4 linked regions of the Homo sapiens genome follow. The protein of the gene in region 1 purifies or fractionates together with the protein of each later gene. This does not show direct contact. Each region holds a gene or a part of one and is shown in the gene's direction. Other genes may lie near its edges.

Region 1 (3,500 bases):
AGACTTTGGTTGCAGCTGTTTTTAGCACCCACTGGTGTGCCGTGGCTCCTTCAGTTCCAAATCTGGGATCTATGAGGCAAAAAGAAAGCCCAGGGAATCAACTACTGTGTTGTTTCTTTGGTCCTGAGCTCCCTAGCTGGTCTGCCTTCTCTCCACCTTTCAGAGTCTTCTTTTGTTTTTTTTTTTTATATATAATGCCTAGGGATTTTAGTTGTCGTTTGTGGAAAGAATAAGGAAAAGTACTCCATCTTCCCAGAAGCAAAGTCCTGGTTGACATTAAACAAACAAACAAACAAACAAAAAAAGAACTAACTTATTACCTCTTGAATGTTCCAGATTTCCACTGGGAAATATCCAAATGTGAGCATTGTTCAATAGTGTCTGGAAAGTTTACTTGATTATTTTTAATTTGTAGAAAAAAATTAAAATTTGCATGCTATAAATATTTCAGAATTAAATAATATCGAAGGATTCCTGATGCCATAGAACAAAAACCTTTTGATCTTTTCATTTCAAAAATGAGAGAAACAAAACTACATTTCTTTTACATGTTAAATAACTGATCTGTTTTCCTTGTTTTTAGCTTATAGTTGCAACAACATGTATGGGAATAAACCATCCAATATTTTCCCGTAAAATTTTTGATTTTTGTATTGTGGATGAAGCCTCTCAAATTAGCCAACCAATTTGTCTGGGCCCCCTTTTTTTTTCACGGAGATTTGTGTTAGTGGGGGACCATCAGCAGCTTCCTCCCCTGGTGCTAAACCGTGAAGCAAGGTAGGCAGACACTTAAGTGTTAATTTTAAACTAGATTATTTTCAAGGAACAGATTTAGTACACTGATAAACATGAATCTGATTTATTGACAGAGCTCTTGGCATGAGTGAAAGCTTATTCAAGAGGCTGGAGCAGAATAAGAGTGCTGTTGTACAGTTAACCGTGCAGTACAGAATGAACAGGTATTTGTAACAGTGTTAGCTAGGAGTGGTTTTCATGTTTGTTTCCATCTACCAAAACTAAAGTTATCTTTTGTAATTCCCTTAGTAAAATTATGTCCTTAAGTAATAAGCTGACCTATGAGGGCAAGCTGGAGTGTGGATCAGACAAAGTGGCCAATGCAGTGATAAACCTACGTCACTTTAAAGATGTGAAGCTGGAACTGGAATTTTATGCTGACTATTCTGATAATCCTTGGTTGATGGGAGTATTTGAACCCAACAATCCTGTTTGTTTCCTTAATACAGACAAGGTAAAAAAAAAAATTTCTGTTTAGTTTTTCTCATTTTGTCCTATTATTTAAATTTCTCAGTTTTCATTAGCACATGCCCTAATTAGAGCTTATCAGTTAAAAGGCAAAACTAGGCTGGGCGTGGTGGCTCACACCTGTAATCCCAGCACTTTGCGAGGCCAAGGCGGGCAGATCACAAGGTCAGGAATTCAAGACCAGCTTGGCCAACATGGTGAAACCCTGTCTCTACTAAAAATATAAAAAGTAGCTGGGCATGATGGTGGGTGCCTGTAATCCCAGCTACTCAGGAGGCTGAGGCATGAGAATTGCTTCAGCCCGGGAGGCGGAGGTTACAGTGAGCTGAGATCACACTGCTGCACTCCAGCCTGGGTGACAGAGCAAGACTCCCATCTTGGGGGGAAAAAAAAAGGCAAAACTAATGTACTTCTCATACTTCAACCCAAAATAGTCTTTTCTTTCTTTTTCCTTTCTTTTTCTTTTTTTGAGACGGAGTCTTGCTCTGTTGCCCAAGTGGCATGATCTCGGCTCACTGCAACTTCCTCCTCCCAGATTCAAGCGATTCTCCTGCCTCAGCCACCCAAGTAGCTGGGATTACAGGCACCCACCACCACACCAGACTAATTTTGTATTTTTAGTAGAGACAGGCTTTCACCATGTTGGCCAGGCTGGTCTTGAACTCCTGGCTTCAAATGATCCGCCTGCTTCAGCCTCCCAGAGTGCTGGGATTATAGTGTGAGCCACTGTGCCCGGCCCAAAATAGTCTTTCTTTCTATAGGCCCAGTATTTTTTGGAGGAGGTTTATTCTGGAGGTCAGTAGATATCAAAATTGACTTTTGAAGAAGGAAGGCCACAAAGTGAACTCAGGGGTATAATTCTATTTCCTAGAAAAGGAAATGGCACTGATACTATCAAAGGGCTGGGTTTACAAATGGACAGAGGGTATAATAAATTGATGTCCTTTTAAAGACTTTTTAAAAAACAGACTTTAAACCCGGGCACAGTGGCTCACTCCTGTAATCCCAGTACTTTGGGAGGCCGAGGGGGGTGGATCACTGGGGTCAGGAGTTCGAGACCAGCCTGACCAACATGGCAAAACCCTGTCTCTACTAAAAATGCAAAACTTAACTGGGTGTGGTGGTGCGCCTGTAGTCCCAGCTACCTGGGAGGCTGAGGCAGGAGAATCGCTTGAACCTGGGAGGCGGAGGTTGCGGTGAGCCGAGATCGCGCCACTGCACTCCAACCTGGGTGACAGAGTGAAACTCCATCTCAAAAAAAAAAAAAGCTTTATTTTTTAGAGCAGTTTTAGGTTCATAGCAAAATTATGTGGAAAGTACAGAGGTTTCTCATAACCTCCCTCCCCCACATATGCACATGAAGACCTTTTTACAAACCAGTCATTAAAAAGAAATCTGCACAACGACTTTTTTGTTTTTGTTTTTGTTTTTTAGGATGGAGTCTTGCTCTGTCTCCCAGGCTGGAGTGCAGTGGTGCAATCTCCTGGTGTCTCAGAAAAAAAAAAAAAAAATCAAGATTGCTTAGGGATGATGTAGGAGGAAAGTAGTCTTTGAAGAGATGTATCAGGAGGTAGGACAGCAGTTTTATCTGCTCCATTATTTGTATAAAAGGGGACAAGAAAATGGAAAGAGCACAGATATACGACCCAGATCTAAGTTTGTTTGTTTGATTCTGAGACGGAGTCTCACTCTGACTCCCAGGCTGGAGTGCAATGACACTGTGTCAGCTCACTGCAACCTCCGACTCCCAGATTCAAGCAATTCTCCTTCCTCAGCCTCCTGAGTAGCTAGGATTACAGGCACGCACCACCACGCCCAGCTAATTTTTGTATTTTTAGTAGAGACGGGGTTTCACTGTGTTGGCCAGGCTGGTCTCCAACTCCTGACCTTGTGATCCGCCTGCCTCAGCCTCCCAAAGTGCTGGGATTACAGGCGTGAGCCACCGCGCCCGGCCACCCTAAGTTCAAATAGTAGTGCCACAGTTTATTGTGAGGCCTTGGGAAAGTTACTTATTCTTTTCTGCCTTTGATTCCTGTAAAATGGGGGATAACAAAGTGAAGTATTTGAAGCTCAGTGTGTGATCAGCTTTCGTAGGTATTTTAGCCTCAATCATAGCATGTTTCAGATAGGTGGCCTCTGCGTGGCTTTCTGAAAGTGACTAATATTAATATTCATTTTTGTTGATTCTTTCACCTTCATCTTTTAGACAAAGCTATTTTTCATCTCCAAGTCGGTAG
Region 2 (7,988 bases), on another chromosome or scaffold:
TAGTAGAGACGGGGTTTTGCCATGTTGGCCAGGCTGGTGAACAGGTTTTTAATGTAGACTAAAGTGCCCTATTCTGTGGGGGGAAAAATGCCACAAAGAACATTTATTAGTAAGGAAGGAAAGTGAGCACTAAGATTTAAGGCAGGAAGGCTAACTCTAATGTTTGGTGCAAATACAATCAGATTTGTGATCAGAACTGCCATTATTTATAAAGCTACTAACCCCCGGGCCTTGAAGGGAAAAGATAAACTCCAGTCTCTTAGTTGTATAACAAAAAGACCTAGACAATGAGAACCTTCTTTTCTGGATTGGTTTCACTGATGCTTTGTGCCTGAAGTCAGAAAGTATCTTGCTAGTAAGGGACTGCCTTTAAAATTCTTTTAATGTTGGGCAATGCCCCTGGCCACCCAGAACACCATAAGTTCAATACTGAAGGTGTCAAACTGGTATACTTGCCCCCAAACACAATGTCTCGAATTCAACCTCTAGATGAGGAGTTCATACAGGCCTTTACGGGCTCATTACATAAACTAATCTATGGAAAGGATTGTCATTGCTATGGAAGAGAACCCCAGTAGAGAGAACATCCTAAAAGTCTGGAAGGATTATACCATTGAAGATGCCATCATTGTTATAGAAAAAGCTCTGAAGGCCATCGAGCCCGAAACAAATTCCTGCTGGAGAAAACTGTGTCCAGACGTTGTGCATGACTTAAGATTGACAGCAGAGCCAGTCAAGGAAATCATGAAGGAGATTGTGGGTATGGCAAAAAAGATAAGGGAGCGAAGTAATTTCAAGATATAGACCTTGGAGACATTCAAGAGGTAGCAGACATGGCTGGGCGCGGTGGCTCACACCTGTAATCCCAGCACTTTGGGAGGCCCAGGCAGATGGATCACTTGAGGTCAGGAGTTTGAGATCAGCCTGGCCAACATGATGAGACCCCGGTCTCTACCAAAAACATAAAAAATTGGCTGGGTATGTTGGCATACGCCTGTAATCCCACACTCCACCTTCTCTCAGGAGGTGGAGGTTGCAGTGAGCCGAGATTGTGCCGCTGCACATTCCAGGCTGGCCAACAAAGCAAAACTCTGTCTCCAAAAAAAAAAAAAAGGAACGCTAATAGACACTAAACCGAAGAGTTAGCAGAAGACAATTTGATAGAAATGAGTTCTTCCTAACTACTGCCAAGTGATAAGGAAGAAGATGTAGAAGAAGTAGTGCCAGAAAACAAATTGACTTTAGGCAATCTGGCAGAAGGGTTCTGATTATTCAAGACTGCTTTTGACTTATTTTACAACATAGACCCTTCTATGTTATGAGCACTGAAACTAAAGGAAATGGTGGAAGAAGGATTGGTACTGTATAGAAACATTTTTAGAGAAATTAAAAAGGAAAAGAGTCAGACGGAAATTATGATGTGTTTTTATAAGGTCACACCAAGTATGCCTGCCTCTCCTGCCTCCTCCTCTACTTCCTCCCCCTCTTCCACCTCTGAGACAGTAAGACCAACTCCTCTTCGTGTTCCCCGTCAGCCTTCTCACTGTGAAGACGATAAGGATGAAGACCTTTATGATGATCTACTTCCACTTAATAAATAGTAAATATTTTTTCTCCTCTTTATGATTTTCCTGATATATTTTTTCTCTATATTGCTGTATTGTACAGATACAGTATATAATACATAGACAAAATATGTGTTAATTGTTTATGTTATCAGTAAGGCTTCTACTCAACAGTAGGCTGTTAGTAAAGTTTTAGGATAATCAAAACTTCTATGTGGATTTTTGACTGTTTAGGGGTTGGAACCTGTAATGCCCATGTTGTTCAAGGGTCACCTTTACATCTTTGGCTGATACCTTCCAGAGTTCAGGGTTGAGGTTCTGGCTAAGAATATAAATGTGAGAATTGTCCTTATAAACATAATATTTATTACTGTGAACTTGGATGAAGTCACCTAGGGAAGGAGTAAATATAGGTAAGAAAAGAGGTTCAAGGATACTCCAAAATATTTAGAGATCAAGTTAAAGAGGATCCAGCTAAGGAGACTAAGAAAGAGTAGCTAGAAAAGTAGAGAACTGAAAGACAAGAAGGATGTTTAGAAGCCAAATGAAGTGTTTGAGGAACAGGAAATAATAGACTCTGTCAAATGCTCCTGGTGAGTCAGGTTGAAGACTGAGAATTCACCATTAGATTTAGCAATGTGGAGGCCATTGGCAAGTTTTATGGAATGGTAAGAATGAAAACCTTGAAGTGGATTCAAGATAATGGAAGGGGAGGAATTTGAATTAGTGAGGTTGACACTACGTGGTTTTGATTTTGTCTCTAGTACCAGTGGGGTATAGAAAGTAATCAGTCACTACTTAAGAGGGCTGAAGAGGAAGCAGTGACCCCAGAAGAATGACCAGAAAGAAAGCTGAGTATATAGAGATTTTGCTTGTGCCTCACCATGAACCTCATGAGACTCAATGATTAAGAGTCAAGAAGAGGTGGTCAGATTAGGGAAGGAATGTTGCTCTCTGAGGATAGAGTTGAGGTAGTAAGAAATGCGTTGGTAATCATTGACTCCTTGAGGTTATGTCATAAAGCTGATGAAGTCTTGATATAATTAATCTTCATGCCCAGACACTGATAGCGGATTTCTTTTTTGTTGAGATGGAGTCTAGCTCTGTCGCCCAGGCTGGAGTGCAGTGGCACGATCTCGGCTCACTGTAACCTCTGCCTCCTGGGTTCAAGTGATTCTCTCTCCTCAGCCTCCCAAGTAGCTGGGATCACAGATGCCCTCCGCAACAGCTGGCTAATTTTTGTATTTTTAGTAGAGACAAGGTTTCGTCATGTTGGCCAGGCTAGTCTTGAACTCCTGACCTCAATTGATCCACCAGCCTTGGCCTCCCAAAGTGCTGGGGTTACAGGCATGAGCCACCACACCCCGCCTTACTCTTTATTATTTTAAAGTAAATCCCATACATCTTATAACTAAAATCTGGTTTATTGGGGGTAGAACCTAGTAGAACAATGCTTTAGCAAGAGTCATGAATCAAAAAAGAGAAGGCACAAATAAAATAATATTAGAGATAAAAAAGGTACAATATAGGCTTCAAAATACGTGAATACATTGACACCCTTATGCCAATAGTTTTGAAAATTTGAAACAAAGGTATAATTTTCTAGGAATATGTAAATTAACAACTTACCCAGTTTACCTAAGAAAAAAATAAAAATATTTATTTACATTGATTATCCAAACATTAAACATATGATCTAAATGTTAACATATGTAAGATAATCATTTCTGGTACATATTTATGTGCTTTAATCAGTTTCTTAGCCTGTCTGTCCCATGGTATTGCTGATATTTTTCTGAAAAATATATTTTTAATACAGTGTTATTTTAATTTTTCTCATAAAAAATTAGCTGTAGCCTTGTTTAGAGTTGCATTTTATGCTGAATAAATTTGAAGTTAAATCTTCAATTCTTTTCTTTTTTTTATTTGTTTGAGTCAGAGTTTCACTCTTGTTGCCCAGGCTGGAGTGCAATGGCACCATCTCGGCCCACTGTAACCTCTGCCTCCCAGGTTCAAGCAATTCTCCTGCCTCAGCCTCCCAAGTAGCTGGGATTACAGGCATGCGCCACCATGCCTGGATAATTTAGTATTTTTAGTAGAGATGGGGTTTCTCCATTGTTGGTCAGGCTGGTCTCGCCTCCCAAAGTGCTGGGATTACAGGCGTGAGCCACCATGCCTGGCCTAGACTATAATATTTTTTAATGAGAAAAATGTTAGGTTCTAAGGTACTTGGCAGGCTCAGAGCAAATTCTACTAGCTGGGAGAGTCATAATTTTTAAGAATTTGTTTTAATTGAAATGGGTAAATACTTCAGCCTCAGTATTTTTATAGGTTCTGTCTTTTTATCTCCATTCAGGGTACACTTCTTCAATAATAGGGTCTTCACTGTTTTTAAGGACAAAATTCATCAAGTTGTCTATGATTCTTTTGGATGTTTCACAGATTTTAAGCCTACTCTTTTATTTCATTCTGGCACAGAACATAAATTAATACAATTAAAAATAGGAGTTCTATCAAAATATTCTTCCCACAAGTCAAGATATTCCAAAGTACAGTTACAGAATTTTAAAATGAAATCATTCACCATTTCAGCTTTTCATGTACAATTTGTTCAATTCTTATTTGCTTTTGTAGGGATAAATTTCAGTGTCTTCCTGTGCATAAGTTTTGTTTTCATGAATTGCATTTCACTAAAAGCTTCAAAAGCTTAAGTTTAATGCTTTGATTAAAGATGTCTGTTTTCAACTAAATGCAACTAAGATTTAGAGGACTTGTTTCTAATAATAATAATACCATTATTACAGTAGGACACTTAGGTTGTTTTACAGAGTCGCTCGCTCTTCAAAGGCTTAAAGATTTTAAAAACCCAATCACTCCAAGCAGAGGGAGAAAGTATGTCCTGCAATGCTAGTATTTTTTGTGTATTTAATTAACATCGGTTTGTGCGCTGCTGAGGTGGGAGGATTGCTTGAGGCCAGGAGGTCTAGTAGTTTTTCTGTATATCACATTGATTTGTGTGCAGCTGAGGTGGGAGGATTGCTTGAGCCCAGGTCAAGCCTGCAGTGAGCCGTGGTAGGGCCACTGCACTCCAGCCTGGGCAACAAAAACAGAAACAAAACATGTTTTTTTCAAAAATTCTGTTGTTCAGCAATTCTAGATATAAATAAAATCTGAAAATTTGACAAGTATGGCTTCTTTTTTGTTGGTGTGTTATCTTGCAGCTCATTTGGATAGAATCATGAATTGTAATTCCAAATTCAAGTACTTTTGTGTTTCACAGATTTCCTAATATAGTAAGAACATTGATTTTTCTGGCTGGGTGCAGTGGCTTACGTCTGTAATTCCAGCACTTTGGAAAGCTGAGGTAGGTGTATCACTTGAGGTCAAGAGTTCGAGACCAGGCTGGCCAACATGGTGAAACCCCATCTCTATGAAAATACGAAATTTAGCCAGGTGTGGGTGGTGCGTGCCTGTAATACTAGCTACTTGGGAGGCTGAGGCAGGAGAATCACTTGAACCTGGGAAGTGGAGGTTGCAGTGACCCGAGATGGTGCCACTGCACTCCAGCCTGAGCAACAGAGCAAGGCCCTGTTTCAAAAAGAAAAAAAAAGAATATTGATTTTTCCTACAGCACTGTAGAAAACAATAAAATTAATATGTAGTTATTTGATACAATAAAGGATAAAACCATTTAGAAGAATGTTTAGACTACTCTAAAAGCACTTCTTTCGCAGGACTGCTGAACGCTATTTCCTGCCAAAGTTTGTATTTGTATTACTGTAAAAATTAAGAATTTTATCATTAGTGTTAAACTTTTCAAATAAATTTAGATAGAATCCCCACTGATGTCAGATATTTCACTTTCAGCAGAATGAACTTCCAGAAGATTTACTTTGTTTCCATGAACTGAAGAGTAAACTAAACTATTATTGGAATTAATACGGGCGATTTTCTATTTAAAACTCCTGATGACATTGATATAATACTTTTATCATTTAACTGTTTGAAAGTTCTTTTGCTGTCTATGGCCATACCACCCTGAACGCACCTGATCTCATCTGAAAGTTCTTTTGATAATGGAGACAACCCATTAACAGTCACTTCACTTTTTATGCTTGCACCAGAAAACTTGGAATGAAAAATGAACAAAATTATTTTAGAACAACTGACATTTCTTTTAATGCTGCGCTGTCCAATACAGTAGCTACTAGCCACATGCAGCTATGTAGGTTTAAATCAATTAAGGTTAACTTCGTTAAAAAGTCAGTTTGTCTGTCACATTAGCCACATTTCAATTGCTCAGTACCAGGTATAGACCATTTTCATCACCTCAGAAAGTTGTTTTGGAGAGCACTGAGTTCTTAGGAAGAATCATGCTTCACAAGATATAAATCACCTTCTGCAGGAGTAGAATCACAGTTTTTAGGCAGCCTTCTCAAGATAACTACTAACTTGAATAGATACTGATGCTTCTTCGGGACTTCTTTCTCTTCTAATTTTCTTGTGGTTGGTGTTATCACTATAGTATGACTGTAGCCCCGTGGTAAATGTCAACAAACATTTTATTCAAGTTATATTTTCATTATCAACTTTCCTGAGAAGAAGAAATTTAGTATTTAATCTTTTATTAAATATGTACTTGATATACTTTTTTAGCTCATTACCACTGAAAGGGTTGTGTTGGTTTTCATTTTTTTCCCAAAATTTCAAAAGCATAGCAATCAATAAAATTAATATGTAGTTAGTTATTTGATACAATAAAGGACAAAACCATTTAGAAAAACATTCAGACTACTCTAAAAGCTCTTTAGAAGATTGCTTAACTCTATTTTCTGCCTTTATTTCTTATTAATTCTACTATATTTCACTATAATTTTCCATTGGTCCCACCAACTGGCACCTGTAACTTTGTACGTCTCCTCCAGTGCATCTGCTGATACACCAAGAAGCCCATCGGGGCTGGGTGTGGTGGCTCATGCCTATAATCCCAGCACTTTGAGAGGCCGAGGTGGGTGGATCACCTGAGGTCAGGAGTTCAAGACCAGCCTGGCCAACATGGTGGAACCCCATCTCTACTAAAAACACAAAGATTAGCTGGGTGTGGTGGCGCACGCCTGCAGTCCCAGCTACTTGGGAGGCTGAGGCAGGAGAATCACTTGAACCCGGGAGGCAGAGGTTGCAGTGAGCTGTGATAGCACCACTGCACTTCAGCCTGGGCGACAGAGTGAGACTGTGTCTCAAAAAAAAAAAAAAAAATTCCATTGGAACAAAAACGTGAAATACTTCTCTCATCACCATTGGGACTGAAAGAAGTAGCTATCCCTAGGGTCTTACATCTGAATCCATTCCGTTTTTTATTGAATGCCTCACATGTTGTCCCCGAAAGGATTTGTTAGTCACATTGCATCAGGAAAGGGTAGGAAAAGGGGAGATAGCTTATCACTAGTCATTTTACAGATTTAACCATGTGTTATGTGTGTTATGTTACCAAATGAGACCATGGCAGAAGCTGGAAGTACAAAGAAGAGGTCTGCCAAACCCACCCTAGCCTTTTTTTTTTTTTTTTTTTTTTTTTTGAGACAGTGTCATGCTGTTTCCCAGGCTACAGTAGTGCGATCTCGGCTCACTGCATCCTCTGCTTCCTGGGTTCAAATGATTCTCATGCCTCAGCCTCTGGAGTAGCTGGGATTACAGGTGTGCACAGCACTATGTCTGACTAATGTTTGTATTTTTAGTAGACTCAGGGTTTTGCCATGTTGGTCAGGCTCCACCCTAGCCAATTTTGATGCAACTAATACTAATATGTTTTAAAGTGAAAATTCCTGGACAATGCCAGGCCAGTTGGACACATAAACCAGGAGTATCTCAGGCAAACTGAGACTTATAGTCCTCCTATCTACTCTCTATAGAAGGGAGCCTAACCACCTTACTCTGGCATTAAGGTTATTCTAAATAGGTGACCTAGACTTCATTTTCCTTTTTCTTTCCTGGCTTGTCTGCTCCAGGTAAACTCCCCCATGCTGTATTAACTATATTTTTTTTCATGTGGTTTTCTCTGGAACTGCCCTTGTCACCAGTCTTAGCATATCTAGTCCTGCTTGTTCTTTGACTTCCCAGTGTAAATACCATCTTTCTTATGAATCTTTTTGACTTTCTCAGGTGAGAATTAATCTTTTTCTTTTGAACATCCACAGCTCTTTATATAGATTTTTTTTGCTGTTTATTATATGTTATTTTTGTATTTTATTATGTACATTATATTTTGTGTTTTTATTTGCTTTTTTGTATGTGTGTAGATAGGGCACATACTAAATGAGTAAAAGCATTTGGAAGATAAGTTTAAAACAAGTTATGATAGATACAGATGGTTATTTGAAACACGTTTGGATAGTTGAGCTCATACATCTATTCATTTATTAATTC
Region 3 (7,988 bases), on another chromosome or scaffold:
TTGCAGTGAGCCATATTTGCGCCACCTGCCTGGGTGACAGAGTGAGACCTTGTCTCAAAAAAAAAAAAAAAAGAAGGAGTTGCAAGTCACTGGAGTTGGAAAGTAAGCAAAGGAAGAACATGATCAGATTTGCATTTTTAAACGATAACCCTGGATAAAGGGATCAGCTATGGAAGCTAGCTATGGAAGTTAACTCTATTAATTCCTGTTGGCCATACTTGGATTAGATGGATTGGATTGAATTTCTGGAATCAGAGTAAAGGAGGAGTCAAAGCAAATACAATTATCAGTGTGAGCAGCTAGTCGAGTGGTTGTACCATTTACTGAGATGGGAAACACTAGGGGGAAAGTAGCTTTTTCCCTATTAAAGTAGATGCCTGTTTGACATCTAAGTAGAGATTTGAAATAAGCAATTGAATAAACAAGGTTGGAGCCCAGTGGAAACATCATAAAATCATAAAAATTTTATGATTATAGTAAAGAACCCTGACTTAGTCAGATGGTAACAGATTTAGCACAGGAGGAGCCACCATTGCAATCAAGAAAATGAGAGAGAGAAGGTGCCTTGGAAGCCAAGAGAAAAACATCTGAATAAGGAAGGGAGTCATCAGCCCTGTTGAGTGCTGCTGAGAATTAAAGTAAGATTTAAAGTGACCAATTAGGTTTGACAACATGAAAGTCATTGGTGAACTTAATGAATACCATATTTCTTCATTTCTGAAACTTTTTTTTTCATATTTTAACATATCTGAAATAGAGATAAGTTTATAACAGATGACAAGTGACCATATAACTTGTGGTTTTTTCTCAATATTATATAAGATGATGGTTCATCTTATAATTTATGGTGTCTTTGTATTGATGAAATGTAACTTCAGCAGTGTTGGGGATAGAAACCTGATTAGAGTGGATTGAGAAGAGACTAGTACTTGGTTATCCACAGTAACATTTTCTGTGAAGATAGTTTTTTAGTTTTTTGTTTTTTTTTTTTAAAGACAGGCGCTCACTCTATCATTTTGGCTGAGTACGGTGCTTAATCATAGCTCACTGAAGCCTCAGACTCCTTGGCTCAAGTGATCCTTCCCCACCTCAGCCTCCCAAATACCTAGGACTACAGGCTCATACCAGCTACCTTTTTTTATTTTTTGTAGAATGGAGTCTCACTATGTTACCCAGGCTGGTTTAGTTTTAACTTCTTAGCTACCATTTTGTTAACCAGTTAAAGCATGGGGCTTAAAGCAGAACCAAATTCCTGGTCAAAGTAAAGACATACCATTCTGCTGTAGGTTGTTTTTAAACATCAAAGAACAGAACGGTAGCCTTTATTCTAAGAAAATAGGAACCAAAAAGAAAGTATAATCACTGAGTTTCTGTATTAGTTTAAAAGGTAATATTCTATACCTTCATAATCAATCTTTCATTCTTGGCATGGAATAAAGAGCTGAGGAGACAAGAGATAGTGTAAAAATTGATAAATAGGAACCCAGAAACTGTTCTAGTACTGCTCTAGGGCTAATTGTGACTATTTGGACAAGTCACTACCTCTGTGGTGCTTAGCTTTCTGATTGTAAAAAAGAGAGTTGACAAATGCTTATAGGTTCATTTTCCAGTTTTATAGTTCCATGATTATAATTTGGGAAGAACTAGAGGCATTAATATTCAGCTACAGCCTTAGGAATATCTCCCAGTCAATACTTCTGTATAATGAAGTAACTAAGTTCTTATCAGACTGAGGAAACTACTACAAAGTAATGTACATCAGGGTCAACCTATATGAAGGTAGGACATTGTTTTGTTCAATTTATGAAACATCCTTTTCTCTTCTTTAGTTCCATCTTGTTACTGCCTCTAAACCAACTAGAGCTCTCTTTCTCAGAATCTTTGAGCCAGTAGGAGCTTTTCTGTCTGATATCACCACTTAAACTCTTGGGCTCAGGCAGAAATTTTATTACAAGACATTCTACATGATGTTCCAACCATAATTTTATTTATTTTTTGTGATCTTTCTTTTTTGTTTTTGCTAGATGTGCAGCCTTGCCTAGTTTTCCAGTCTGTTTTTTCATTACCTATTGAAGTCAGTTCTTTAACCCTCTCATGTTTCTTAGTTATCCACTTTTGTTTTTTGTTTTTTTCATAATATATATGTAGGTATATATATATTTACATATATATATTTTTTTTGTTCCTGCCCTGTGCCTTGTGCTTTTTCTATTTCTTAACCCATCCCGTTCAGGACATTAACTTATTTACCCTGTTTTTTTATGTATTCATTTTATTTTATTTTATTTATTCATTTTTTAAGACGGGGTCTCTCTCTGTCACCCAGGCTGGAGTGCAGTGTATATCATAGCTCACTGCGGCCTGGAACTCTGGGGCTTAAGTGAGCCTCCCGCCTCACCCTTCCAAAGTACGGGGACTATAGCACTGCATGCCACCACACGTGGCTAATTTTTTGTTTCACTTTATTTTCATTTTTATATTCATTCATTTGTTTATTTTGTAGAGACAGATTCTTGCTTTGCTGTCCAGGCTGGTCTTGAACTCCTGACCTCAAGTGATCCTTCCGCCTTGACCTCCCAAAGTGTTGGGATTACAGGCATGAGCTACCATGCCTGGCCTTGTTTACCCAATTTTATGTTAGTGAATTTCTTGCCCATTACAAATGTACAAGTAAAGATGGAGTAAATAATTTCCATGCCCAGTGAGAAAGGGTGCGCAGAATTTATATTTAGTTATGGAGGTGATTTTTATCTTAGGAAAAAGGTGGCATGATTCAGATCCTTCTGAGTTGAGCCCTTAGGGTGTCTTATTTTGTATTTTGAATTCTGTACATGCTAGAAAGAGTGGTGATAGAATCAAAATATTTCTAATTCTATAACCTTAGTCCAGTCGCTTGATTATTTCTGCCTTCACATCCTCATCTGAAAAAAATTGAGCTTTATATCTATGTATACTGTGTTGCTACTAGTTTATCACAAGGATAAAGTGAGACAAATTTATCAGATAACCTAGGGAAATAAGTTACGTTATAAATGTAGAATATTCTGTTGGTTATATTGTGTGTCATGTTGTCTGTCCTTCTCTCCTTTCCCTTTTCCCTCTCCCTCCCTCTCTCCCCTCTACTTCTCTTTTTGTACCTGACTTGCCCATTTAGCTACAAGCTCATGAAGGAAACATATTTTCTTACTTGTCTTTGTATCTTTCTTGTTTACTGGGTGTCTGATATACTAGCACATACTTGGATGAATATAATAATATTTGAATGACGATATTTGTAAGTAAATATTTGAATAACTGTGAAGTAAATATTCTTCACAGTGTGAAGAACTGTGTGCGGGGCAAGAAATAAGCCCTTGGCAAGCAAAGTGAGAGGAGAAAAGCCTTTCTATGAAGGAGACTGAAAAGGAGTGATTGGAGAGATGACAGAGAACTAGAACAGCTCAGTAATCAACCATAAGATCAGATGTTTTAAGTGCAGCAAAGAGGTCCAATAAGATGATGTCTGAAAAATATCCGTTGTATTTGGCTATTAGGTAACCAATTGTCTGATAGTAGTTTCAGTAGAGTGGTAATGGATGGTTGGGTGAGAGGAGGGAGAGGGGTTGTGTGGAAGCCAGATGATAATGGATTAAGGAGTAAATAGAAATTGAGAAAGCAGATATGAAAAGTGTGGACTCCTTTGAAGGCATTTGGTTGAGAAGAAGGAGAGACATTAAAAGGTTGCTATAAAGTCAAGAGGAGAGTGTTTTAGCTCTGTTTTGTTTTTTGTTCTTGTTTTTTTCTGTGGGAGACGTGGTGTGTAGGCCATAGGAAAGAAGCATGAAAAGTTGACAGTAGATGAAAGAATGGAGAGGTGGGAGACAGACAGGAACCAGAAAAGAATGTAGCAATAGGCACACATAGGCAGAAGAGTTAGCTCTGACTAGGAAGAAGAGCCCCTCATACTTTAAGAACAGAGAAGAGAGGAGGTAGGAATGGGTGATACAGTAAAGGTGTACACTACGGTGAGATTCGTTGTATATGCAAAGACATGTGAATTGGCATACAGCTTAAGAAAATAAATTGCAAGAAATACCTAAAGTCTGACAAATACCTTGGCTTACATTTAAGTCAAATTTGTAACCAATATTTAATAATTTTTGGGTTTCTGAGAGTAGTAGCTTTCTTTGCTTGCTTAATGTGTCTGAAAATCGTGTCTGAAAATCCTATCCAGTTAAATAATCTTTTTTTAAAATGCTGCTGTATGCACATCCTAGATTGCTGTAATACTTGAGAATTCAAAAGGTATGATTTATAATGAATGATACTAGTTATCCTGTGAAAGATTAACGTATAATATATATATATATATATATTTTTTTTTTTGGAGACAGTCTTGCTCTCTCACCCAGGCTGGAGTGCAGTGGCGTGATCTCGGCTCACTGCAACCTCCGCCTCCTGGGTTCAAGCGATTCTTGTGCCTCAGCCTCCCTTGTAGCTGAGACTACAGGTGCTCACCACCACTCCCGGCTGATTTTTTTTTTGTATTTTTAGTAGAGACGGGGTTTCATCATGTTGGCCAGGCTGGTCTCAAACTCCTGAGCTCAAGTGATCCGCCCGCCTTGGCCTCCTAAAGTGCTGGGATTATAGGCGTGAGCCCCTGTGCCAGGCCCGAAAGATTACCATATAATTTTCATGCAGTTTTTGTTCAGATTTCAGCAGTATGTGGTACTAGGTACACATCTTACAGTTTATAAACTTTACTTTTAGAGCACTTGTGACTTACTACTAAATTTTGTTTGTTTTTCTTTTAGTTATTACAAGAACTGTGTACAGTATTTAATGTAGATTTACCATGCCGTGTGAAGTCTTCCCAATTGGGAATTATCAGCAATAAACAGACGCATACCAGCGCCATAGTGAAGCCACAGTCTAGCTCCTGTTCCTATATCTGCCAGCACTGCCTCGTCCACCTTGGAGACATTGGTGAGCCTTTGCTGTGAAGGAATTGATAATATGTTCCTCCTTTTCTTTGGAATAGTCATAGAAAGAAACTGTTTTCCTTTAAGCGGAGCATACACACACAATTTAGATTGTCATAAGAAGAAACTATAAAATGTATTCTAAGGAACTTAAAATTTCTCAATATTTTTGGGATTGGCAGAGCATCGTGAAGAAAGTAACTTTCATATTAAGATTTAAATTTTATTCCAACTTTATGTAATTTATATAGGCAAATAATAAACAGCAAAAACATAATCAAAGCTTAATTTTTCAAAGTGGTGCCATAATTTCTAAATTAAATGTACTCTTCTGGAATAAATGAGGTTTATAAATTACTCCTGAAGCGAAATTGCCTTCTTTCTTTCTTACCAATGGACTAAAAGTTGATTTTTAATTTTGCTTCCTTTTTAAAGTTTAATTTGTATTTCTATTATTTGCATTTTATCTGGGAATATTATATAACTTATTTATTCTTGTTCATTCCTTTAAGGTGACCTAGAAAGGTTGTAAAACAAATTAACTATAGGATTATGTTTTGCTTGTCCTCAAATAACAAAGAATGGAGAACATTACTGCTTTTAAGTTTGAAATTTTAGATTTCTTAATATTGTAAGTCAGCGGTTCCATGAGGAGGTCACATCAGAGTAAGCAGTGAGTTTGGCAGGGAGATTCATTGATACTGTGTTTAGGTTGTTTTGCTTTAAATATAATCTTTGCACACACATATTTAATATTGCAATAGGAATGAGACATTTTTCAAAATCACTTTATAAAATATTGAAAAATACATAATTTTCAGATCATATTGTATAGTGTATTTTGTTTTGTTTTGTTTTTAAGTGCCATATAACTCACCCCTTCTTGTGGGCCGGCTCCAGGTCACCAGCATAGTCCATAGTGGGAGCTGGTGATGCATGACACTGGAGGACCTGAAAATGGGGTCTAGGTAAGCTTTAAAATTGGTTACATGCTGAATGTCCCAAATAAGGAAGGCTGATGGACACTTCACACATAATCCTATAGTTAATTTGTTTTAAAGTATTTTGTCTTTAATTTTAAATTAACTTTAATGTCTTTATTATCTTTAGAACTTAAAACTATAGCTGTTTTGGAAATACTACCCTACTGTTTGTTTTTTGGGTTTTTTAAAACTAATTTTCTTCTTCTTAGCTCGATACAGAAACCAGACCAGCCAGGCAGAGTCCTACTATAGGCATGCAGCTCAGCTTGTCCCCTCCAATGGTGAGTGGACCTGTCAACCTGAGATTGACCGTGACACTTTGTTCTTTATAACAATGTGGCAGATAACTCAGGGCTCACCTTTGAAGTTTTATGAAAGCAATAAATGAGTTTTGTTATTGTCATGTTTTTCCATTTAACTGTACATTCCATGTAAACTAAAATGAATTTTTTTTACAAGTAAGATGACTTTTATTATTTATTTTATTTTATTATTTATTATTGTCAGTAAAGCAATATAGATAGAATCTCTTAATGTAATCTGATATTGTTTCTACAACTCTGGCTTCCTTAATTGCTTATAGAATAATTATTTCTTTAGATACCACCATTCCCCTCCCCCCAGAAAAACAATCTATTACCTAAAAGATAATCTTTTAATGGCCCCAAACTAGGCATTAGCAGTAGTTCTTGAGTTACAGAAATTACAGCAGATATTTAATTATTTAAATCATTCTTACTAAGACGTTGAAATTCCTTTAGATTCTAGAAAGAGTCTAAAGCAGGGATGATAGTCTGACCACACTACTTGTTTCATATTTGTTTATGGCTGCTTTCACACTACAGTGGCAGAGTTGAGTGGTTGTGATAGAGACCCTTTGGCCTACAAAACTGAAATTATTTATAATCTAGCCCTTGCTGAAGCCGCTCTCTACCCTAATATTGACTGTTTAACCTGTATATGATAGTGTGTACTGTCGCTGAAGTGTGCTGTTGGACCTTACGCTGGTTTGCAATGAGGCAGTCATATTTACCTTATAAAAATACTCCCCATTGTTTGAGTATTTAAACACTGATCATTTGTATTCTTATAGCAAGACTTTGTCACTCTTGGGGTTACTCCAGAATCTTAACTTTCTCCTGTAGGTCAGCCTTATAATCAGTTGGCTATCTTAGCTTCTTCCAAAGGAGACCATCTGACCACAATTTTCTACTACTGCAGAAGCATTGCTGTGAAGTTCCCTTTCCCAGCTGCCTCCACTAATCTGCAAAAAGCACTTTCTAAAGCACTGGAAAGGTAGGGTTGTTTGGTTTTTTTTTTCTCTTTCCAAGAGGACTTTGTAACCTGGAGCCTTAATTCCTCATAATTTGGTTTACAGAAAATAACGGCCTATGCTTCTCTTATTTCTAAACATATAGATTTTTCATAATTTGTGTATAGTCACTGAATTTCATCCAATCAATATCTGATTCAGTCCCAGTAAAAGAGTACACAGGCTGTTAATACTGACTCATCTTGAGTGTGTTGCAGTTGAAAAATCAGTCAAATACAGCTCTTTTGTGTATCAAGTATTTAGCAAGCCAGTGCCTCCTTAAACAGTTGTAGCCAATTTGCTGCTTATGATTCATGGAATTTTTTTCTTTCATTTCAGCCGAGATGAGGTGAAAACCAAGTGGGGTGTTTCTGACTTCATCAAGGCCTTTATTAAATTCCACGGTCATGTGTACCTGAGTAAGAGCTTGGAAAAGTTGAGCCCTCTTCGAGAGAAATTGGAAGAACAGTTTAAGGTTAGATTTCAGAAATAGAGAATTTTTGTCTTGTCTAAATCAGGAAGCATAACATTTGGAGGAAACTGACTCCCAGTTTTTGTAGTTACTTAACTGTGTGAACTATTGGTAAAAATTATATTCGAAGTATGTGAAATCTTTGCATTTATCATCCCTTCAATTTAAACTGAGGTACAGTCTGTATAAACAAATATAATATAGCAGTGTTTTCACTTGAGTAGTTGCCATTTGACAAAAATTATCAAAGTGGAAAAAAA
Region 4 (7,988 bases), on another chromosome or scaffold:
TTAAATAACGATGGAAATTAGAGTCGCGGTGGTGTTCTTTTTTTTTTTTTTTTTTTTTTTTTTTTGAGGCGGAGTCTCGCTGTCGCCCAGGCTGGAGTGCAGTGGCACGATCTCGACTCACTGCAGCCTCCGCCCCCGGGGTTCACGCCATTCTCCTGCCTCAGCTTCCCGCGTAGCTGGGGCTACAGGCGACCACCACCTCGCCCGGCTAATTTTTTGTATTTTTAGTAGAGACGGGGTTTCACCGTGTTAGCCAGGATGGTCTCGATCTCCTGACCTCGTGATCCGCCCGCCTCGGCCTCCCAAAGTGCTGGGATTACAGGCGTGAGCCACCGCGCCCGGCCTGAGGTGGTGTTCTGTGGGTAACCAGGCCTGGGGGTCCTACCAACAGAGGTGGAATCCCTGTTCCACCATTTAACTTACGCTGGGTGTGGTACCTAGTCCTGTAAGCCTGTTTCCTCATTTGTAAAATAGGATTGAAAATACCAACTCAGGGTGGGCGTTAGTACAAAGCTTGCGCCTGAAGTATTTCTTAAATAAGTGTTAAGAGAAAATTTTGTTGTTTTTTAAGTCAGCTGTCTAAAATGTTGTTTTACAGTGAACAACTCCTAACTGCTGGGATTATAGGCATGCACCACCACACCCGGCTAATTTTTAAATTATTTGTTAAGATGGGGCGGAGGGGTGTCTCACTATGTTGCCCAGGCTGGTCTTGAACTCCTGGGCTCAAGCTATCCTCCCACCTCAGCCTCCCAAAGTGCTGGGATTAGAGGCGTGAGCCACCGCCCTGGCCTGTAGAAGCTACTTTGTATTCAGCTTTACAGACCAGTGGCGTTAGCGTTTTGCACATTACAGCCCGCTAGTCTACAGAATCCCCCCACTTTTTTTTTTTTTTTTTTTTTTTGATACGGAATTTCACTATTGTTGCCCAGGCTGGAGCACAGTGGCGCGATCTCGGCTCACCGCAACCTCCGCCTCCCAGGTTTAAGGGATTCTCCTGCTTCAGCCTCCCGAGTAGCTGAGACTACGGGCGCACGCCACCGCGCCCGGCTAACTTTTTGTATTTTAGTAGAGACAGGTTTTCACCATGTTGGCCAGGATGGTCTCACATATCTGCCGACCTCGTGATCCGCCCGCCTCGGCCTCCCAAAGTGCTGGGATTACAGGCATGAGCCACCGCGCCCGGCCAGTCTACAGACTCTTACAAAATTCCCCTGTTGTTGGATATCTAGGATGTTTCTCACTTTAACTATTACAGCATGGTGTAGTAAACATCCTTTATATATATATATATATATATATATATATATAGTTCACATACCCTAAAATTAACTTTTTTAAAAGGGTTCAATCCAGTGGGTTTTTTTATTATTATATTGGCAAGATTGTGCAACCATCACCACTGTCTAATTCTGGAACATTCTCATCCACCCAAGAAGCAACCCCGCGGCCCCAGGGTGCCCCAGTCTCAGAGCCCCGGTTGTTGGGCTCCAGTCCAGGCCCCCTAACCATGTGCTAAACAAGATGGTGAGGCTCAGCCTGGAAACCAGAACAGCCCCGAGGCCCCCAAACTGGAGAGCCCCAAGGGGAGATGGAGCCCCTCCCCCATTCTGAGTTTTGGCCCCGTGCTAAGGCTGGACCGACCCCCTGTGCTGTCAAGCCTACCTCCCAGGGGAGGCGAGGCCAGCCCCGATGTGTGCGGGCTGCCATCCCCCACACTTGGCTCCGGGGCTGGTCGGTGTTGGGCGTCCCAGCACTGCGGGCGGCACGGACGCCCGGGGCTGCTCCCTACTGGGTGTAGCGCACCCCGCCCCCCACCCCGCCCGGCCTCCTCTGGGCCTGCGCCTTGGGCCTATTGAGGCCAGGCCTGGAATGGTGCCCTGGAAGCAGGAAAGAGCCTGTAATTCCGGAAGCTGCGGGCTCCCAAACCAGACACCATTTTGGAGACCGGTGCAAAAATGTGTGCCGCTTTTGTGTGGAAAACTGCTAGACTGTGAGAGAGAGCCGACCTCCTCATGCATGAACCTTTATAGAGGGTGGTCCACATATTCTGTGCACTACATACACATACGCTGGGCACATACTGGCTCTCTGTGTTAAATCTCAGATTTGCTGCCGCGCGTGGTGGCTCACGCCTGTCATCCCAACGCTGCGCCAAGGCAGGAGGATCGCTGGAGGCCAGAAATTCGAGACCAGCCTGGGCGGCAACAAAGCGAGACCCCGTCTCTACAAAAATATTTTTTATTTTTATTTTATTTTTCCGTCAAGCTGTTCTTTATTTCAGGAAGAGGGCAGGGGAGGGGGCTCAGTCTTTCTTGGCAGCGGCTTTCCTCATGGCAGCCAGTACCTTGCTCAGCTCCTCCCGCTTCCTCTTGGCACGGATGTGCGTCCCCACCCTTTTCTTGATGAACTTGAGGGCCCATTTCTCCTTGAAGACCTTCAGTGACTCCATGGCGCGCAGCTCGTACGAAGCGAAGCCACACACCTCCCGGATCATGTCCCGCTACAAACTTGGTGCGTTTGCTCAGACGCCCGCGGCGGCGGCTGTGCCTGGGCTTGCTCACGTTCTTGGTCACCTTGTGGCCCTTGTTGAGGCCCACGGCCATAAGGTAGCGCAGAGCCATGGCTGCTGCTCTCCATGGCGGCCGTGGCGGAAGGCCAAAAATATTTTTTAAATTAGCCTGGTGTTGTGGCTCGTGCCTGTAATTCCGGCTACTCCGAGGTTGAGGCAGGAGGACGGCTTGAGCCGGGGAGATGGAGGTTGCCGGGAGCGGAGATCGCGCCACTGCACTTCAGCCAAAAGGGGGGTAGGAGGGAATAAGTAAATAAAATTAAATAAATAAAGTGGTATCTCACTGTGGTTTTGATTTGCATCTACCTAAGGACTAATGATGTTGGGTATCTTTTCATGTGCCAGTTGGCTATTTGTGTAGCTTTTTCTTTTTTTTTTTTGAGACGGAGTTTTTTTTGTTTGTTTTTGAGACGGAGTTTCGCTCTTGTCGCCCAGGCTGCAATGCAGTGGCACCATCTCGGCTCACTGCAGCCTCCACCTCCCGGGTTCAAGCGATTGTTCTGGCTCAGCCTCCCAAATAGCTGGGACCACAGGCGCCCGCCACCACACCGAGCTGATTTTTGTATTTTTAGTAGAGACGGGGCTTCGCCATGTTTATCAGGCTGGGCTTGAACTGCTGTCCTCAAGTGATCCGCCAGTCCCAGCCTCCCAAAGTGCTGGGATTACAGGCGTGAGCCACTGTGTCCGGCCCTAAATAATGTCTTTCGATGCACGGAAGTTTTCAATTTTGATGAAGCCCAATTTATGTGTGTATGTGTGTGTGTATATATATATATGTAGTGTGTGTGAGTTTTGGGTGTCATATTTGAGAAATCATTGCCTAATCAAGATCATGATGATTTATACCTTTGTTTCCTTCAAAGAGTTTTATAGTTTTAGATCGAGATCCATTTTGGTTCATTTTTGTCCCATATGGTATGAAGTAAGGATCCAAATTCATTCTTTTGCAGTTTGATATTCAAATGTCCCAGCAGTTGAAAAGACACTTCTTTCTTTCATTGAATGGTCTTGGCACCTAGATGAAAACCAGTTGACCATAGATAGGCATATGGGTTTATTTCTGGTCTCAATGCTACTCCATTGATCTATATTTCTATCCATATGCCAGTAACACAGTGTCTTGATTACTGTAGCTGTGTAATGAATTTTGAAATTGCGAGGTGCGAGTCATCCCAACTTTGTTCTTTTTCAAGATGATTTTGGGTATTCTGGGTCCCTTGCATAATATGAATTTAGGATCTGCTTTTCCATTGCTAAAAAAATGGCATTTGGAATTTTGATAGGGATTGCATTCAATCTGTAATTTCTTTCAACAGTGTTTTATAGTTTTCTGTGTACACGCCATATATTAATTTTGTTAAATATATTCCTAAGTACTTTTTCTCTTTTTTTTTTTTTTTTTTGTAACTGAGCCTGAGCAGGACCAGAGGAGTGCTTTATTCTTTTTGATGCCATTGTAAATGTAACTTTTCTTTCATATTCAGGCTGTTCATTGCCTGAACCAGTGTATAGAAATACAACTGGTTTTTCTATATTGATCTTGTATCCTGCAACCTTGCTGAATTCATTTGTGAGGTCCAGTAGATTTTTGGTGGATTCTTTAGGATTTTCTGTATATAAGATCATGTTTGGTTGCCTTTTCTTTGTCTTGCCTAATTGCCTGTCTAAAACTTCCACTACAATGTTGAACAGATGTATTGAGAACCAACATCTTTGTCTTATTCCTGACCATAGAGGGAAAACTTTGTCTTTGGCCACTAAGTATGATGTTAGGTGTGGGTATTTTGTAGATGCTCCTTATCAGGTTGAGGAAACTACCTTCTGTTTCTAGTATGTTGAATGTTTTTTTAATCATGAGAGGATGTTGCATTTTGTCCAGTGCTTTTTCTGTGTATCAATTGAGAAAATCATGTGAGGTTTTCCCCATCTATTAGTATGGTATATTGATTGATTTTCATATGTTGAACCAACCTTATATTTCTGAGATAAATCGCGCTTGGTCTTGGTATATAATTCTTTTTATATGCTCCTGGATTTTGCTTGCTAGCATTTTGTTAAGGATTTTTGTGTCTCTGTATTCATAACCCATACTGACCTATATTTTTCCTTCTTTTTTTTTTTTTTTTGAGAGATGGAGTCTTGCTCTGTTGCCCAGGCGGGAGTGCAGTGGCATGATCTCGGCTCACTGCAACCTCTGCCTCCCAGGTTCAAGCGATTCTCCTGCCTCAGCTTCCCAAGTAGCTGAGACTACAGGTGTGCACCACCACGCCTAACTAATTTTTTGTATTTTGGTAGAGATGAGGTTTCACTCTATGTTGGCCAGGCTGGTCTTGAACTCCTGACCTCAGGCGATCTGCCTGCCTTGGCCTCCCAAAGTGCTGGGCTTACAGGCGTGAGCCACTGCACCCGGCCTTGACCTATATTTTTCTTCCTATATCTTTGTCTGATTTTGGTAACAAGGTAATACTGGCCTTATAAAATGATTCGGAAAAATGTAGTAAATATCTTGGAATCATTTTTGTAGGAGCAGTTCCCAGAAGGAAGGCATGTACATTTGTAAGTTACTTGATAAATATTTTCCAGTCATTTTCCAAAAAACCAAATTGTGTTTATTTGTGATTAACATTGCCTTTGCAGAATAGTAGTCTCTTAGAAATTATAATTCTTAATGCCTTGAGGTACTTAAAAGTTTCTCTGAAAGACAAAGGCAAGCCCAACCTTCTGCAACACACCTGATTTTAACATCTAGAGCAGCTCCAAAGGTGCTAGATGCAGCATGTTACCAGCAAATTGTTTTCGAGTGCTTCCTACATAGAACAGGTTTTCTCAGCTTTAGCACTGTTTTGGGCCAGGTAACTCTTTTGTTGTTGTTTTTGAGATGGAGTCTTGCTATGTTGCCCACACTGGTCTCAAACTCTGGACTCAAGCCATCCTCCCACCTCAGCCTCCCAAGCAGTTGGAACTGCAAGTGTGAGCCATCACACCCAGCTGAATAATTTTTTTTTCTTTCTTTCTTTCTTTCTTTTTTTTAATGTTGTTTGTTTGAGACGGGATCTTGCTATGTTGCGCAGGCTGGTCTTGAACTCCTAGGCTCAAGCAATCCTCCTGCCTCGGCTTCCCGAGCAGCTGGGATTATAGGCATCAGCCACTGCACCCAGCCCTGGATAATTCTTGCTGAAGAATGTGTGGAAGCTGCCCTGCGCATTGTAGGGTGGTTAGCAGCATCCCTGGCTTTTACCCACTAGGCGCTAGTAGCAGCCTACCCCTCCTTCTCCCGAGCTGTGACAAACAAAAATGTCTCCAGACATTGCCAGATGTCCCCTGGTGGGCAAAATAATCCTTAAGAAGCACTGATCTACAAACTGTGATGCATACTGGGTTTTATATTATTACTAGATAAAATTGTCTCTAATGGCCAGGTGCGGTAATCCCAGCACTTTGGGAGGCCGAGATGGGCAGATCACAAGGTCAGGAGTTCGAGACCAGCCTGGCCATTATGGTGAAACCACATCTCTACTAAAAATACAAAAATGAGCCAGGCATGGTGGCATGCGCCTGTAGCCCCAGCTATTCGGGAGGCTGAGGCAGAAGAATCGCTTGAACCCAGGAGGCAGAGGTTGCAGTGAGCCGAGATTGTGCCATTGCACTCCAGCCTGGGTGACAGAGCAAGACTCCATCTCAAAAAAAAAAAAAAAAGTCTCTAATTCTCACTGTATACCATTACCACTTTGGTGCCATTTGTCCCAGTCCATGTCACCATATCCTGTTTACTTTCAAATCTGTCTCTTTAGGCTCAATTTCTCTCTGTATTCTCAGACCCGTATTTCCCATTGCCTGCATCTTGAGATTGATTTGTTCAAAATCAGACTTACTCTCCTCTCCCCAAAGTGTTCTTCCTTTATTCTTAGTCTCCCTGCTCATGACTCTACCAGTTATTCACTTAACCTTTCTCAACTCCTCTCTCCACCTCTCCCATGAAATTTGCTGCCTAAATCTAAATCCAGGCTCCGCTATCCCAAGTACCATGTCCATAATGTGTAAGCGAGTTCATCTCACCTGGCTTGCCACTGCAGTTCTTACTTGTCACCCCATGCCGCTGCCTTTCAGGTGCCCTTTCTTAGCAGCTCTAATCATGTCACTCCTCGCACACCCAGAGTCCTCATGATCATGCCCTGTCTGCCTCTGCAGGCTCATCCCCCCCATTTCTTGAACTTCAGGCTCTGGCCATACCAAACAGCCTGCAGGCCCCCCGCCCCCACTGCCTTACGTGGCATTTTCTTTTTTTTTTTTTTGAGACGGAGTCTCGCTCTGTTGCTCAAGGCTGGAGTGCAATGGCGCTATCTCGGCTCACGGCAACCTCCACCTCCCGGGTTCAAGCGATTCTCCTGCCTCAGCCTCCCAAGTAGTGGGGATTGCAGGCGCCCACTACCATGCCTGGCTAATTTTTGTATTTTTAGTAGAGACGGGGTTTCTCCATGTTGGTCAGGCTGGTCTCAAACTCCCAACCTCAGGTGATCCACCCGTCTCGGCCTCCCAAAGTGCTGGGATTACAGGTGTGAGCCACTGCACCCGGCCTAATTTTTGTATTTTTAGTAGAGTTGGGGTTTCGTCATGTTGGTCAGGCTGGTCTCAAACTGCTGACCTCAGGTGATCTGCCCACCTCAGTCTGCCAAAGTGCTGGGATTACAGGCGTGAACCACCACGCCGGGCTTGCCTGACATTTTCATTCTTCAGACTGCACTTATCTCCCTCCCCCACCTCCAGCCCAGGCATGTGGAGCAGTCACTCCCTTCTCTCCCACCACACCTGGAGAGACCTGGGTCTTCATCCTTATCCTGTGCTGCAGGGGTTGGTCTGTGCATCTGTCTCCCATATTAAACAATCGGTGCCTCCAAGCCAGGTAGCACAGCTTATTATCTCTGCCCACTCCCCAGTGCCTCACATGGAGTGGGCGCTTTGTAAATGTGTGTGGAGTAGTAAGTGGAAATAACCCAGAGCAGAAAGAAGCTACCTGGGACTTAAATGTAAAGTAGCCACAGGTTTTGTTTTGCTTTGCTTCAGTTCAGCAAAAATTTACTAAGCACCAACTAGGTCATGGATGCTAGGAATAGAAAAAAGAACAAAGTAGGATGTTTGCCTTACAGAATTCACCTCACGTCCAGTATGAGATGGGAGTATGAACAAACAGTCATGCAGAGTGATGAGTGCAAACATGGACTATAAAGCGGCCATAGAGAATGAACTGTGTTTGTGTTTAGAGAAGACACACTCCCCACCCCTGAACAGGCTTCTTAAAAGTACTAGAAAGGTACTGTCTTTGTCCTAGCCTTTAAACTCTTACTGTATTTGGAAGGCTTCTATTAGTATGTGACTTTTTAAATGATTTTTTTTTTTGAGACGGAGTTTCACCCTTTTG

Evidence for each region.
Region 2: the proteins of DNA2 (region 1) and WDHD1 purify together in Homo sapiens (co-immunoprecipitation; one study listed by IntAct). This does not show direct contact.
Region 3: the proteins of DNA2 (region 1) and SMG7 purify together in Homo sapiens (affinity purification with mass spectrometry; 2 studies listed by BioGRID and IntAct, with this or other methods). This does not show direct contact.
Region 4: the proteins of DNA2 (region 1) and DCAF4 purify together in Homo sapiens (co-immunoprecipitation; one large-scale study listed by IntAct). This does not show direct contact.

The regions. Positions count from the first base shown.
Region 1 is NC_000010.11:68,419,974-68,423,473, reverse strand, and holds part of DNA2 (DNA replication ATP-dependent helicase/nuclease DNA2), read left to right. Parts: intron 1-583; coding exon 584-777; intron 778-869; coding exon 870-959; intron 960-1,044; coding exon 1,045-1,249; intron 1,250-3,500. UniProt on the Homo sapiens protein: Key enzyme involved in DNA replication and DNA repair in nucleus and mitochondrion.
Region 2 is NC_000014.9:55,014,533-55,022,520, reverse strand, and holds part of WDHD1 (WD repeat and HMG-box DNA-binding protein 1), read left to right. Parts: intron 1-7,988. UniProt on the Homo sapiens protein: Core replisome component that acts as a replication initiation factor. Binds directly to the CMG complex and functions as a hub to recruit additional proteins to the replication fork.
Region 3 is NC_000001.11:183,521,803-183,529,790, forward strand, and holds part of SMG7 (nonsense-mediated mRNA decay factor SMG7), read left to right. Parts: intron 1-4,793; coding exon 4,794-4,965; intron 4,966-5,910; exon of another isoform or gene 5,911-5,929; intron 5,930-6,153; coding exon 6,154-6,225; intron 6,226-7,089; coding exon 7,090-7,240; intron 7,241-7,595; coding exon 7,596-7,731; intron 7,732-7,988. UniProt on the Homo sapiens protein: Plays a role in nonsense-mediated mRNA decay. Recruits UPF1 to cytoplasmic mRNA decay bodies.
Region 4 is NC_000014.9:72,927,307-72,935,294, forward strand, and holds part of DCAF4 (DDB1- and CUL4-associated factor 4), read left to right. Parts: intron 1-2,258; exon of another isoform or gene 2,259-2,450; coding exon of another isoform or gene 2,451-2,514; exon of another isoform or gene 2,515-2,658; intron 2,659-7,716; exon of another isoform or gene 7,717-7,880; intron 7,881-7,988. UniProt on the Homo sapiens protein: May function as a substrate receptor for CUL4-DDB1 E3 ubiquitin-protein ligase complex.